3 separate regions of the Homo sapiens genome follow, and regions 2 and 3 are each linked to region 1. Evidence: fine-mapped expression QTL. A gene starts in region 1. Each other region holds a variant in brackets. All regions are shown on one strand. Distances are between the middles of the regions.

Region 1 (4,243 bases):
CCCCCAAGGTGTTTTTATACAGATGGTAGACTCACTCTGAAAAACACTAGAACATACATTCTTAAAATATCAAACATTGAATTCTGGGTATGATCATTCTTTTTTGGTCAGGGACAAGAAAAAAACTGTCAAAGACAACTGAGATTTTGAGTCCAGGTAGCCGGAGGAGGAAAAGTAATACTTACAAAAATAAGGACTGGAATGAAAAAGGAAGATGATGGAATACAGACTGCTTTTTGAACTGCTTTATGCATTTCATATTATGAAAAGAGTATTTTTCCTAAAATAGGTGAATTGCCATGCTGACCGTAACTTTTAGGCTGAGACAAAACAATATTCAATTAGAATTCTAATTTCCATTAGAAACTGGTAAGTGTAAACCCCAAAAGGCTTACAGAAAAAGTAAATCACAAAAATACAAGCTTGTAAAGCAGTGTTCACATTAACCTCAGCGAAAACTTTTAGGATTCAAGGTATGAGGCAAAAGTCATAATGGTTGTCAGGTTCAGGAGTTTGGAAGCGCATATAGTGCCTCATCTGCTGTTCCCTAGTCTTTCTCTTGATTTCCATCATCTGCCCTACAAACCTTTCTACATCATCTCTCGCTTCATTGTGCTCAATATGCCTATTAGGTATGGCCCATCGAAAATTAGGGACAAGTCGCCTAACTCGCCCCCGCCTGATATTTCCTCCAGGCTTCTGGCCTTCACCCCCTCCCAAATGGCGGGATTCTTCTTCATTCTGCGTGGGGGCCTGCTCCCCTCCTTCGTTTTCTTGTTGGGCATTTTCCCCGTTGAGATTGTTTGCCGCTAGTTCCTCTTTGGACTCCATTACTCCTAGGAGACAAGAGAGAGAAAATGGGCTGAATTCTTGGTGGACTGATAAGCACTGAGGACAGAGGCCCTACTAGGCACCTTTTAAAATTCAGAGCCCTGGACTTGACTTTATACTCTAACATTTCATTTTTTTCCACCTGAGAAGCCAGTATGCCCTGTGGGGTGCCCTCAATCCGAGCCCCTCCCTTCCGCAAAGCCCACCATTTTCCCTGTAGATCCATCTCCAGGCTTCCGCAGGCAGCAAAATGGAGGACGAGGATGGCGTGTGGGAAGGGGAGGGTTGCATGGGGTAGAGGGGGGCGAGGGTGAAGGCATGGATTAGGGTCTCAGACTGGGCTTTCCTCACGTTCCGGCCCCCGCCTCACCACCGACCCTCGCACCGACCTGGGCCTATCCTTGCAGTCTCCTCCTCCGGATTCTTGACGCGAGGTGCGCCGCCGCGACACTTAGCCCCGCAGACCTGCAGACTGCCGGGGTGGGGGAAGTGGGGGCTGCTGCAGCAGAACGCTAGCTAGGAACTACCGCCATCCGGCCCCTCCCCCGCCCCGCCCCGAGGCCCTGGCCCTGGCCCTGGCCCTGGCCCTCCTCGCCACCCTCGCCCCCCGCCTCAGCCGCCCCGCCCCGCAAGCTGACCACCATTTTCTGCACCAAGAAGTGCGGGGCAGGGGTGTCGGAAAAGCTTGCGCTGATGGCGTAGGCAGGTGTTTCCGAAGGGTCGTAGCCCCAGGACCGCCGGCTCCCTCCGGGCCGGGCACCTCTCCGCTCAAGGAAGGCTCGCGGGCCCGCCGCGGGGCCCGGGGGCTGCATCGCGGACCGATTGCTTCTCCGCACGGCTCCCCCGGGGTGGGCATCCGCAGGCCGGAGCCACTCCCTCACACCAACCCCAGGGACCCCCCGCCGGGTTCCTTACCTGCTCCCCCTCCGCTTCCTAATTTCGGGGCCGCCCCTGGCCCACACGTCCTCAGGGCCACCGGGAGCAGGTACCACCGCCGAGAATGGAACGAGCCACGACGGCTCTGACGCCAGAGCGAGACAACACTCAGTGTTGGCCGGTCACGTGGGGCTGTTGTCATCGCCAACGGCTCCGCCCCCGTCCCACGCCCCCTCCTGCAGCCCGGAGTCAGGCGGGGCTTTCGGGTCAGCCCCTATCCTCATCCGGAGTCTCTTTTAGTATCTCCAGACTGGCCGGCCCTTCCACTCTCCTGTCTTTGTGTATTCTTGGGACTTCCTCTGCCTCCCCAAGAGGGAAGCTGTCTTCTCAGGGAGCTGTTGGCCATTCCCACTTCTGTGGGGACTTGCCTCTCCCTGTCCTGGGCTCCCAGGATTTTCCCCACATCTCCCAACCAGGACGCGGGCGCAGAATTTAAAGGGGTGCAAAATTCCTCAGCAGTCAAGAAAAATAACATTTTAATGCAACATTTTAAAAAACAATTATTGCAAGAAAATTTATGATGAGCAAGATGTCAAAAATTTAAATAAAGAGAGCATCAGTCCCGCCCACCCCAATGGCAAACTGTGGTACTTGTTACCAATGCTCATCCTTTTCTCCACACCAGAACGTTTGGGGGGGGACAGGAAATGAGTCAAGGACAGTGGATTTTTTTTCTAATTCTTCTTAATACCTTTCTGTTCTGTTCCTTTTTTTGGGGGGTGGGGCAGAGTCTCGCTCTGTCGCCCAGGCTGGAGTGCAGTGGCGCGATCTCGGCTCACTGCAAGCTCCGCCTCCCGGGCTCACGCCATTCTCCTGCCTCAGCCTCCCGAGTAGCTGGGACTACAGGCGCCCGCCACCACGCCCGGCTAATTTTTTGTATTTTTAGTAGAGACGGGGTTTCACCGTGTTAGCCAGGATGGTCTGGATTTCCTGACCTCGTGATCCGCCCGCCTCGGCCTCCCAAAGTGCTGGGATTACAGGCGTGAGCGCCCGGCCCCTTTTTTGTTTAAGAAACAGTCTTTATAGTTTAACTTTATCTTAACTTTAATGGAAAATTTCGAACATTTGGAAAAATGGAATAGTATAATGCAAACCCCATGTACTAGTCCTCACTCAGATTCCACAGTTAACAACTCATGGCCAATCTTATTTCGTCTTTATCTTACCCGCTTCCCAACCTTAAAATTATTTCTGAAGCAAATTCTAGACATAATATCACTTTAGGCATAAATATTTCAAAGTATGTATCTACAAGATAAGGGTTTTCTTCTTTTTAGCATATAACCACAATACTGTTGTCACATTTAATAATTCACAATTCCTTAATATCATTTTATGTCTAATCTGTGTTCAAATACCCAATTGTATTATAGTTTTTTTTAACAGTTTGTTTGAATCAAGATACAAATAAGATATGCGCATTTTGATTGGTTGCCAAATTTCCTAAATTTCTTTTAATCTGTGGGTTTTCATTTTTTAATTTTTTCTTTAATTATTGATGAAATAGTCATTTGTTCTGTATTTTCCTACAGTCTGGATCTCAGTGGTGTCATTAACACATTATCTCTTTACTCTGTGGTTCCTATAAGATGGTAACTAATTCTAGAAAAGCATCCTGGAATTTGGGTTCAATTTCAATTCAAGTTTGTCCAAGGGAAAGCAAAGACTCTTTCTGTTTTCCTCTTTTTGGGATTTTAGCTGAAATATTTCTATAAAGAGACCCTTCCTATTTTAGGTCGGGCTCCCTAGAAGCAGAACTTGGAACAGAGATCCTTATGAATGTAGTTTCTTGTAATGCTCTCTCAGGTTAAAGGAAGTAAAGGCAGCAGGACAGGGCTGGGGAGCAGGGCAGTGATGAAGAATGGGGTTTAACTAGAGATTAAGTTTAGTTAATCGCACCTGAAAACTCTGAAGCACACACAAGTCATCCCACGTTGACAGTAAGTCACTGGCTTTTTGTAGCTCAGCGTCAGTCACAGATCAAAGTCTGTAGGTGGAGCAGAGCATAGTCTCTGGAGCAAGGTGGCTCCCATTTGGCAGAGAACAATTCCCTGGAGAAGAGGTAAAATGTGAGTTGTATGGCTCAGGCCTGTAATCCCAGCAATTTGGGGGGCTGAGGTAGGAGGATTGCTTGAGCCCAGGAGTTTGAGACCAGCCTGGGCAACATAGGGAGAACCCCATCTCCATACACACACACACACACACACACACACACACACGCATACACACACACAAATTTAGCTGGGTGTGGTGGCACGCAACTTTGGTCCCGCCTACTTGAGAAGCTAAGGAGGGAGAATTGCTTGAGCCCGGGAGGTCAAGGCTACAGTGAGCTATGACAGCACCACTGCACTCCAGCCTGGACAACAGAGTGAGACCTTGTCCCCTCACTCCTCCCGAAAAAAGATGTAAGTTGTTATCAGCCAACACACACAGCCAGGGAAGGTTTCATAGGTATATGACTTGTGCTGTGGCA
Region 2 (4,243 bases), 290 kb before region 1:
CACCAGGTGAGTTCACAAACATGCCTGTCTTACCACCATGGGGAAGTGGATTTGGGTCTGCTTACAGGCATGATATTGAACAGTATTTATGAATTATGAAACACTAAAGAATGTAGAGAACATTCTGTTTCTAAAACTTTGAACTGAAGGCATATGAGAGAGATTTGCTTCTTTTATCTGGATGTCTGTGTTCTCGTCTGGAGAAACAATGAGAAATGATTTTTCATAATGACTACCTAAGCCCTGAGGCTCAGCCAGCCCCTACTGCTGTGTTCCAACATTTAAAGGACCATTGAAGTCCCACTTCATGTCATATTCTCTGGGAAAGTTTTCTCATTAACCCCTCATACAGCTCAGTAAGAATGGTATGGTCAGTCCCATTTCACAGATGACCAACCTCAGGCTTTCAGAGCCTAAGTCACCTCCCCAGGTAAGTGGCAGGATTGGAATGAGGTCCCATCCTTCACCCTCCCTAGGAGACCCTGAGCACCTCCCCTTTAGAAGATGGGCTTCCAGGGCTTGAGAAATGGTCAGATTCCACTCCCCTGCTATTGTGGCCCCACAGGTCCTTACTCTACAACCCCTCTGGGTGATGAGGAAGACAGAGGAGGTGAAATCCTGTGCTTTGTGCCAAGAGACCTGGGTGTAGACCTAGTGTGTAAAAACCCCACTAAGGGCTGTATTAAAACAAAGAAGAAAACATTTGTAAACTACATCTCAGATATTGGGTTAGTATCCCTGATTTGTGAAACATACTTGGTAACAAAGCAATTGGCAATGATTTTAACAGAAAATTCAAATAAGTATATACATGAACAATAAACATTAAAAAATACAAAAACCTGCAGACCTGAGTGTGTACTATTCTAGGGATGACAGACTCCTTGGGGTCAAGGGGTGGGAGCTGGGCCAGTGAGAGGTGCAGTTTAAATTTGATTTGTGGTGAGTGGACTGAGGCAGAAGCTCAGGTGTTGGCCTTGGGACAGGTGAACTGGAGAGAAGGCAAGTAACATGCCCTGAACTACTGTAAGCAAATGCACTCTATATTTCATCTGCTTTTACCCTAACAACCATTTAACCCATCATTCTGATAATTATTCAAATCAGGAAACTAAGTTTAAGGACAGTTTATGTAATTTAGAGAGAAAACTTTTTAATCTCCTGATCAGCAGTTAACTTTGGAATTACTTAAGGGTTTTTTTTCAGTTGTTATTTTCATTTTGTCTTGATGCCTCCATAACTCTGAGTGCTCTAATCTCCTTCAACGCTGGCAGTATCTACTCCGCAGGTGTTTTTTAATGTTTTTTCCTTTTAAATATGACCTGTATAATGTTTAGGTCCCATTAATAAAATTTAAAACACTTTCCAAAGGAAAAAAAACCACTAAAGACTGTATTAAAACAAGGGAGAAAACATATGTAAACTACATCTCAGATACTGGGTTAGTAGCTGTGATTTGTGAAACATACTTGGTAACAAAACAATTGGCAATGATTTGAACAGAAAATTTAAATAAGTAAATACATGAACAATAAACATTAAAAAATACAAAAACCTGCAGCCATAAAAAGGAATGAGATTATGTCCTTTCCAGGGACATGGATGAAGCTGGAAGCCATCATCCTCAGCAAACTAACACAGGAACAGAAAACCAAACACCACATGTTCTCACTCATAAGTGGGAGCTGAACACTGAGAACACATGGACAGAGAGAGGAACATCACACACCGGGGCTTGTTGGGGGGTGGGGGGTGAGGGGAGGGAACTTAGAGGATGGGTCAATAGGTGCAGCAAACCACCGTGGCACACGTATACCTATGTAACAAACCTGCACGTTCTGCACATGTATCCCATTTTTTTAGAAGAAATAAAATTAAAAAAAATTACAAAAACCACAAGAACTAACAAGATGCAAATATTTTTAAATCCTGAGAATTTATAATGACAAGATGCAAAAAATGAGGACTATGATTGTACTTTTGGAGAAGACTGTGTGTGAAGGTGAATGTGTTGATGTGCACCTCACCTACAGGGGCACATCTGGAGAGTGTGCACTATTCTAGGGACAACAGACCCCTTGGGGTCAAGGGATGGGAGTTGGGCCAGTGAGAGGTGCAGTTTAAATTTGATTTGTGAATATACTCTTGTATAGTTTTTGAAGTTTCATATTTGAGAATAAAAGTATTTTAGTGAATATTTGAACACACAAGATACTTTAAGTAAGGAGTTTAGGGTTTTTAAAAATTTAACTGGCAAGTAAAGAATTGGCAATGATCTATTCATTTGTCGTAAAATATGTTGGATTATGTTTTAAATAGATCTGTTTGGATTTAAATTTTATTCCCCAAGGACTTAAATCATATATTTTTTTAAAAGCATGTCAGTTTTTTAAAACCTTTGTGAAAAAAGACAAAGTTTAAACATTATATTACAAACTAAGATTAAAATATAAAGCTATTATAATTAATAATG[G/A]ACACTGGAAACTCAGAAGGGGGAGGTGGGAGTAAGGGAGGGAAGGGAGTAAGGGATGAAAAATCACCTACTGGGTACAATGTAAACTATTTGGGTGAAGGGTACACTGAAAGTCCAGACTTCACCACTATAAAATTGATCCTTATAACTAAAACCACTTGTACTCCTGAAGCTATTAAAAATTTTTTTAATTGAGATCTAAAGAAACAAGCTATTGTAATTAAGAGAATGTAGAATTGGTGTAAGGATAGAAACAACAGGCCAATGGACTTTATTAATAGAGTCAAGAAATAGACCCAATCCATATGTGGTCATTTTCACTTATGACACAGGTGACAGTGCAGTGAAGGGAGAAGGATGATATTTTAAGTATGCTACCTAAATTAGATACGTACAAGAATTGATTTCAGGTAGATTGTCAGTCTAAATGCAAAAGTAAAAGAATAACCTATAACAATGGAGGAAAATATTTTTATGTAGTTGGGGTGGCAAATAATCACTAGACAAAAAACTGTTAATCCCAAAGGAAAAAATAATAATAAATTGAGCTACATTATAATTAAAGATTGTCTTTCAAAACATACTCTTAAGAAAGAAAATATTGAAATACAGAGTGAAAGATTTTATATATACAGTGATTCAATTTTTTGGAAACAAGGAGAAAAGTAGAAAATGAGCAAAAGAAGTAAACAGGCATTTTACAATATAAGAATCCCATACGACAGCTGCACGTATAAAAAGGCGCTTAACGTTTTTAGTTTTTAGGACAATGCAAATTAAAATTGTCATGAGATACTACAGTAACCCCATGGACTAAAAAAAAGAGTAAGGGGCAAATAGAACCATTATATACTATTACTGAAAGTAAATTGGTGAGAACAGTTTGGGAAATCATTTGGCAATATCTGCTAAAGCTAACTATATGCATACCTATGAGCCAGCAATTCCAATCTTTGATATACTCAACAGAATCGTGTACATATACCCACTAAAGACAGGCACAAAACTGTATGTAGTAGTACTATAACATTAGTCAAACTGTGGGCATAACCCAAATATCATCCAACAGATAACTTGTAGTATTCATAAAATGAAATACTCTACCACAATTAGAATGCTCATTTTAATGTTGCCATATGCAAAATCATGGATATATCTCACAAGGATAATATTAAGCAAAACAAAGCAGAAACAAAAAAGTATAATTTCAGGTAAATAAAATATGAAAAGTTCGTAAACAGGCAAATCTCTAGTGTTAGAAGTTAATGTAGTTTACTTTTGGAGGTATAATGACTTGTAAGGGCATAAAGGAAGCTCCTGAAGTGAAGATAATGTTCTATTTCTTTCCCTTTTTTACTAGTAAATTCTGCTTTTATTATTAAAAGTTCTTGTAAACATAAGTGTCTCTTCAATGATATAAAAATTTCCCCTTCTTTAAGATTAAATATAAAACATTAATTAAAATATTCAAGGCAATGAAGTTAAATTCTAATGCCTAGCTGGGTGTGGTGGCTCACGCCTGGAATCCCAGCACTTTGGGAGGCTGAGGCGGGTGGATCTCATGAGGCCAGGAGTTCAAGACCAGCCTGGCCAACATGGTGAAACCCCATCTCTACTAAAAATATAATAATTAGTCGGGTGTGGTGGCGCATGCCTATAATCCCAGGTACTCAGTACGCTGAGGCACGAGAATCGCTTGAACCTGGGAGGCGGAGGTTGCAGTGAGCTGAGATTGTACCACTGCACTCCAGCCTGGGCGTCAGAGCAAGA
Region 3 (4,243 bases), 280 kb before region 1:
ACCTAGTACTTGGTAGCACAACAGGGGGACAATAGTCAATAATAATTTAAGTGTGCATTTCAAAATAACTAAAAGAGTATAATTGAATTGTTTGTAACACAAAGGATAAATGCTTGAGGGGATGGATACCTAATTTTTAATGATGTGATTATTACACATTCCCTACCTGTACCAAAATCTCATGTATCCCCAAAAATATATATGCCTATTATGTACCCACAAAAATTAAAAATAAAAGATTTTAAAACCCTCAATTATGAAGATCATTGCACAACTCTATACATTTACTAAAAATCACAAAATTCTATCTTCAAAAGCATGCATTTTATTGTCCATAAATTATACTACAAGAAAGCCGTTTAAAAATATGATATTGCCCTGGTCTTCTGTTGTACCACAGTAGTGACCAAACTTTTTCATACAAAGGCTGTGATGTACATCTTTTATATAAATGTGAATGCATGTAAAACGGTAGCTGTATCCCAGCCCTGCTGACTCTTTGTCATATGTTCCTCCAAGGATTTTCCCCTCCTAACACTATCCCACATGTTACTTCGGGTTTTACTCGGGTGTAAAGTTTGATTTTCATCTGATCACTTCCACATGTTCCAACTGTGGCAATGGCTTGAGAGTAGGTCTACAACAAAGTATAGGGCATTTACTGTCTAACAGGATGTCATTACTATTACTTTCTTCACTCCCCTGTGTGTTTTCTTGCATGACTTCACTTAGGGAGTCTAAATAGCACTACCTTGATGAGTGTCAGTGTGGCAATATTTATCAAAAACCTACATATGGACACACTGTTTGCACAAACAATTTCCCTTGAACAAGTTTATCTTCAGAATGTAAGGAAGGATGTGGATAAGGATATGGTAAAAAGAACTGCTATTCTGATAATTCCCTTCCTTTACTTCTGGGCCTTGTGAAGCCTGAAAGAACCAGTCCTTCAAGATAAATCCTGGGTGTTTAACTGGGCCTAAATTCAAATTAGAGCCAAGTGGCCATTTGCTGAGTAGAGGTCACACATGACTTCGAGTTCCCAGAAAACCTGAAAGTCTGCTTAACTTTGGGACTTTCATAGCTGCCTGTTCCTTTTTATGGTGCTTGAACCAACCAATAAGCTTTCACCTATGTCAACCAATCAGAACTAAGCAAGTTGGAATCCTTCATTTGCATAAGTTGACCTGAGTGGGAACCTGGGTGAGAATTTTCTTCATAAAAGACAAACCTTCCCTTTGTCCTCTGGAACACACCTTCATTTTATACTGAAGGCTACATCTCCCCGATTTGCAAACTATTCACTGGAATAAAGTCTCTTTCCTCTAAATTCCTTTTCAGAGAACTTTTGTTCTCAGCCTGAATTTAGGAAGGGAGACCAAATGAGATGCAAAGCCATGAAGGAAAAGAAGGAAGCAGAGGAAAATGTGGTTGTCATCACACACACAATCACGCCAGCACATACACAATCACACACACACACACACACACATTTATACATGGACCAGGCTCTTTTTATCACAATACTAGTATTCTTCTATGACAGTTTGGTGAGTTCCAAGAGGACACATTTGGCTCACCAGTCCAAACAGCCACAGGAACTGTGCCCGGAACTGTGCCCTTCAGCGGAGCACATACTTTGAAAAGATGCCATCGACACAGTGTTGACATTAGGGAGTATCAGAACACTCTGAATAACATGGAGTTCTGAAAATTATGTTACATCCACAGCATGAAATTGTAGGTAAGCAATAAAATGAGTTACAATGAAGACAATGATGAGAGAGAATTTTTTGCCTATCAGATTAGCTACCATGCCCATTATTTCAATGTGTGTAGAAACAGGCACTTTCATACTGTGATGTTAGTGTTACTGAGCAATGGGCTTGGTCACCAATGCACATAGAAGCCAATACTATGGCACTAGCTTTTGAGGAAAGAAAAAGCTTTATTGCAAGGTCGACCAGCAAGGAGACAGGACCAGCAACACTCAAATCTGTTTCCTCGAGCTGGGGTCTGAAGGCAGAGAGTAACTATG[G/A]GGGACATAGGGAAATGCAACCAGGCATGATCTGATTGGATCATGCAAAGAAGTGGTGCCAAGTCCTTGGCTTTTAAGTTTGTACTGGGAAAAAAACAGGGAACCACTCACTTCTCATTTTGGTCCTCATTTCTCAATCTGAATACTTAGATTCCACATGTGGTTGACATTTTCTGTTCTGGCCAGTTCCAGGTTCACCAATCAGGCATACTTGGTTCATCTGGGCATGCTCAGGTTATATGACTTGCAACCTGGGGATCCACTGCATCTAAAAAACAACTCATCACTTTGTTACAAAGTCAAAGCATATTGAACGGTTCTGTGGTTACATTAGGAATGTAAATTAGTAGTAGTATTTTGAACCATTATGTTAATATAAAATGTTCTAATTTCCAGGGTTTTGAAAGGACTCTTCAGGAGCTTATAAAGAAATGCTTTAAAAGATATCTGCATATATAAAAGCTGGTGTTAAGTATACTATTGTCTGTAATAGAAACTATATTAAAAGGAATTAAATTTTCACCACTAGAGTACTGGGAAAATAAAGTTTAGGGCATCATATGATGAAACACCAACTCTATACAAAAAATTGAAATTGAATTTGAAAGATGGTCATAGTAAAGGCAAACACAGGTTACAAAAGTCCTAAGTAGTATGGCCGGGTGCAGTGGCTGACATCTGTAATCCCAGCACTTTGGAAGACGGAGGTGAGCGGATCCCTTGAGCTCAGGATTTCGAGACCAGTTTGGGTAACATGGTGAAATCCTGTCTCTACAAAAAATATAAAAATTAGTCAGGGGTGGCCGGGCGCGGTGGCTCACGCCTGTAATTCCAGCACTTTGGGAGGCCGAGGCGGGCAGATCACGAGGTCAGGAGATTGAGACCATCCTGGCGAACACGGTGAAACCCTGTCTCTACTAAAAATACACACACAAAAAATTAGCCGGGCGTGGTGGTAGGCGCCTGTAGTCCCAGCTACTCCGGAGGCTGAGGCAGGAGAATGGCGTGAACCCGGGGGACCGAGCTTGCAGTGAACCGAGATGGCGCCACTGCACTCCAGCCTGGGAGACAGTGAGACTCCGTCTCAAAAAAAAAAAAAAAAAATTCGTTAGGGGTGGTGGCTCACACCTGTAGTCCCAGCTACTTGGGAGGCTGTGGCTGGAGGATCGCTCAAGCCTGGGAGGCAGAGGTTGCAGTGAGCTGTGATTGCACCACTGCACTCCAGCCTGGGTGACGAGAAAAACCCCACAAAAGTCAGAAGTAGTTCTGTATCTATTTTTGCTTGTATAGGTCTATTGCTATATATCCATAGGTCTGAAAGCATAAAAATAAAAATGATTTTTTTTATTCCTCTCAAATATAGCTTTCTATTTAGCATAGTAAGAGGCTGGACTTTCTGTTTGGCCATCAGTATCCCTGAACACTGGATATACTTCTGTTCCACCCAGACTTATAGAAAGCTCTGTGGGGTGGGCTTGGGCCACAACCCCTTCCTCCCACTTTCCTGCTCCCGGATGTTCAAGCTGCAGTTTAGGCTTCTGTCACGAGGGGGCACTAACATATCACCATTATCAGACTGCAAAGCAATATATACAATGAGCAAAAAGGTGGGAATTGAACAGTGAGATCACATGGACACAGGAAGGGGAATATCACACTCTGGGGACTGTTGTGGGGTGGGGGGAGGGGGGAGGGATAGCATTGGGAGATATACCTAATGCTAGATGACGAGTTAGTGGGTGCAGCGCACCAGCATGGCACATGTATACATATGTAACTAACCTGCACATTGTGCACATGTACCCTAAAACTTTAATAAAAAAAAAATTAAAAAAAAAAAAAAGAAATACCATACCTCCCTTAAAACACAGCTTGTGAACCTATTTTCAAAATTTTCTGTCTGAAAAAACTGACAGATGCAAAAGAACACTAAATAAATATACTCTGGGGGCATCCATACTATGAAACACCAGGTAGCTCTAGCACACATTGGGAGCCACCGGCTGGCATAGGACAGCACAGGGGCAGGCGTAAGGTGACTAAGAAATGATGAGGGAGGTGGAACTGAGTCTGGGTGGCTGTGTCCACAGTGTCCCAGAGAGGGGATGACTGAAAGTGGGTGGAGAAGGTCTGGGAAGCCTGTACAGGAGTGGGGTAACGGAGGGCAAACTGCCTGCTCTCTGGGAGGGAGGGACCCCTCTACAG

What was found. PIP is the estimated chance that this variant, and not a neighbour inherited with it, causes the effect. A credible set is the group of variants that fine-mapping cannot tell apart.
Region 2: its variant is the best candidate, but not a certain one, in a credible set for the expression of BEX4 in whole blood (TOPMed, PIP 0.56).
Region 3: its variant is the best candidate, but not a certain one, in a credible set for the expression of BEX4 in whole blood (TOPMed, PIP 0.51).

What each region holds. Positions count from the first base shown.
Region 1 is chrX:103,212,742-103,216,984 of GRCh38, reverse strand. It overlaps BEX4 (brain expressed X-linked 4), which reads right to left and starts at 1,877. Exons shown (of 3, transcript NM_001080425.4): 1 at 1,747-1,877; 2 at 1,221-1,303; 3 at 1-836. The coding sequence starts at 831. The coding sequence ends at 469.
Region 2 is chrX:103,504,549-103,508,791 of GRCh38, reverse strand. All of the region lies in intron 2 of RAB40A (RAB40A, member RAS oncogene family), which reads left to right. All of the region lies in intron 5 of LL0XNC01-250H12.3 (a long non-coding RNA gene), which reads right to left. Among named protein-coding and RNA genes, the nearest start is that of RAB40A, 13 kb to the left of the region's middle. The variant G/A (reference allele first, on the strand shown) is at 2,474.
Region 3 is chrX:103,489,277-103,493,519 of GRCh38, reverse strand. The region is part of intron 5 of LL0XNC01-250H12.3 (a long non-coding RNA gene); the gene reads right to left. It also overlaps a transcript of RAB40A not described here. Among named protein-coding and RNA genes, the nearest start is that of RAB40A, 28 kb to the left of the region's middle. The variant G/A (reference allele first, on the strand shown) is at 2,039.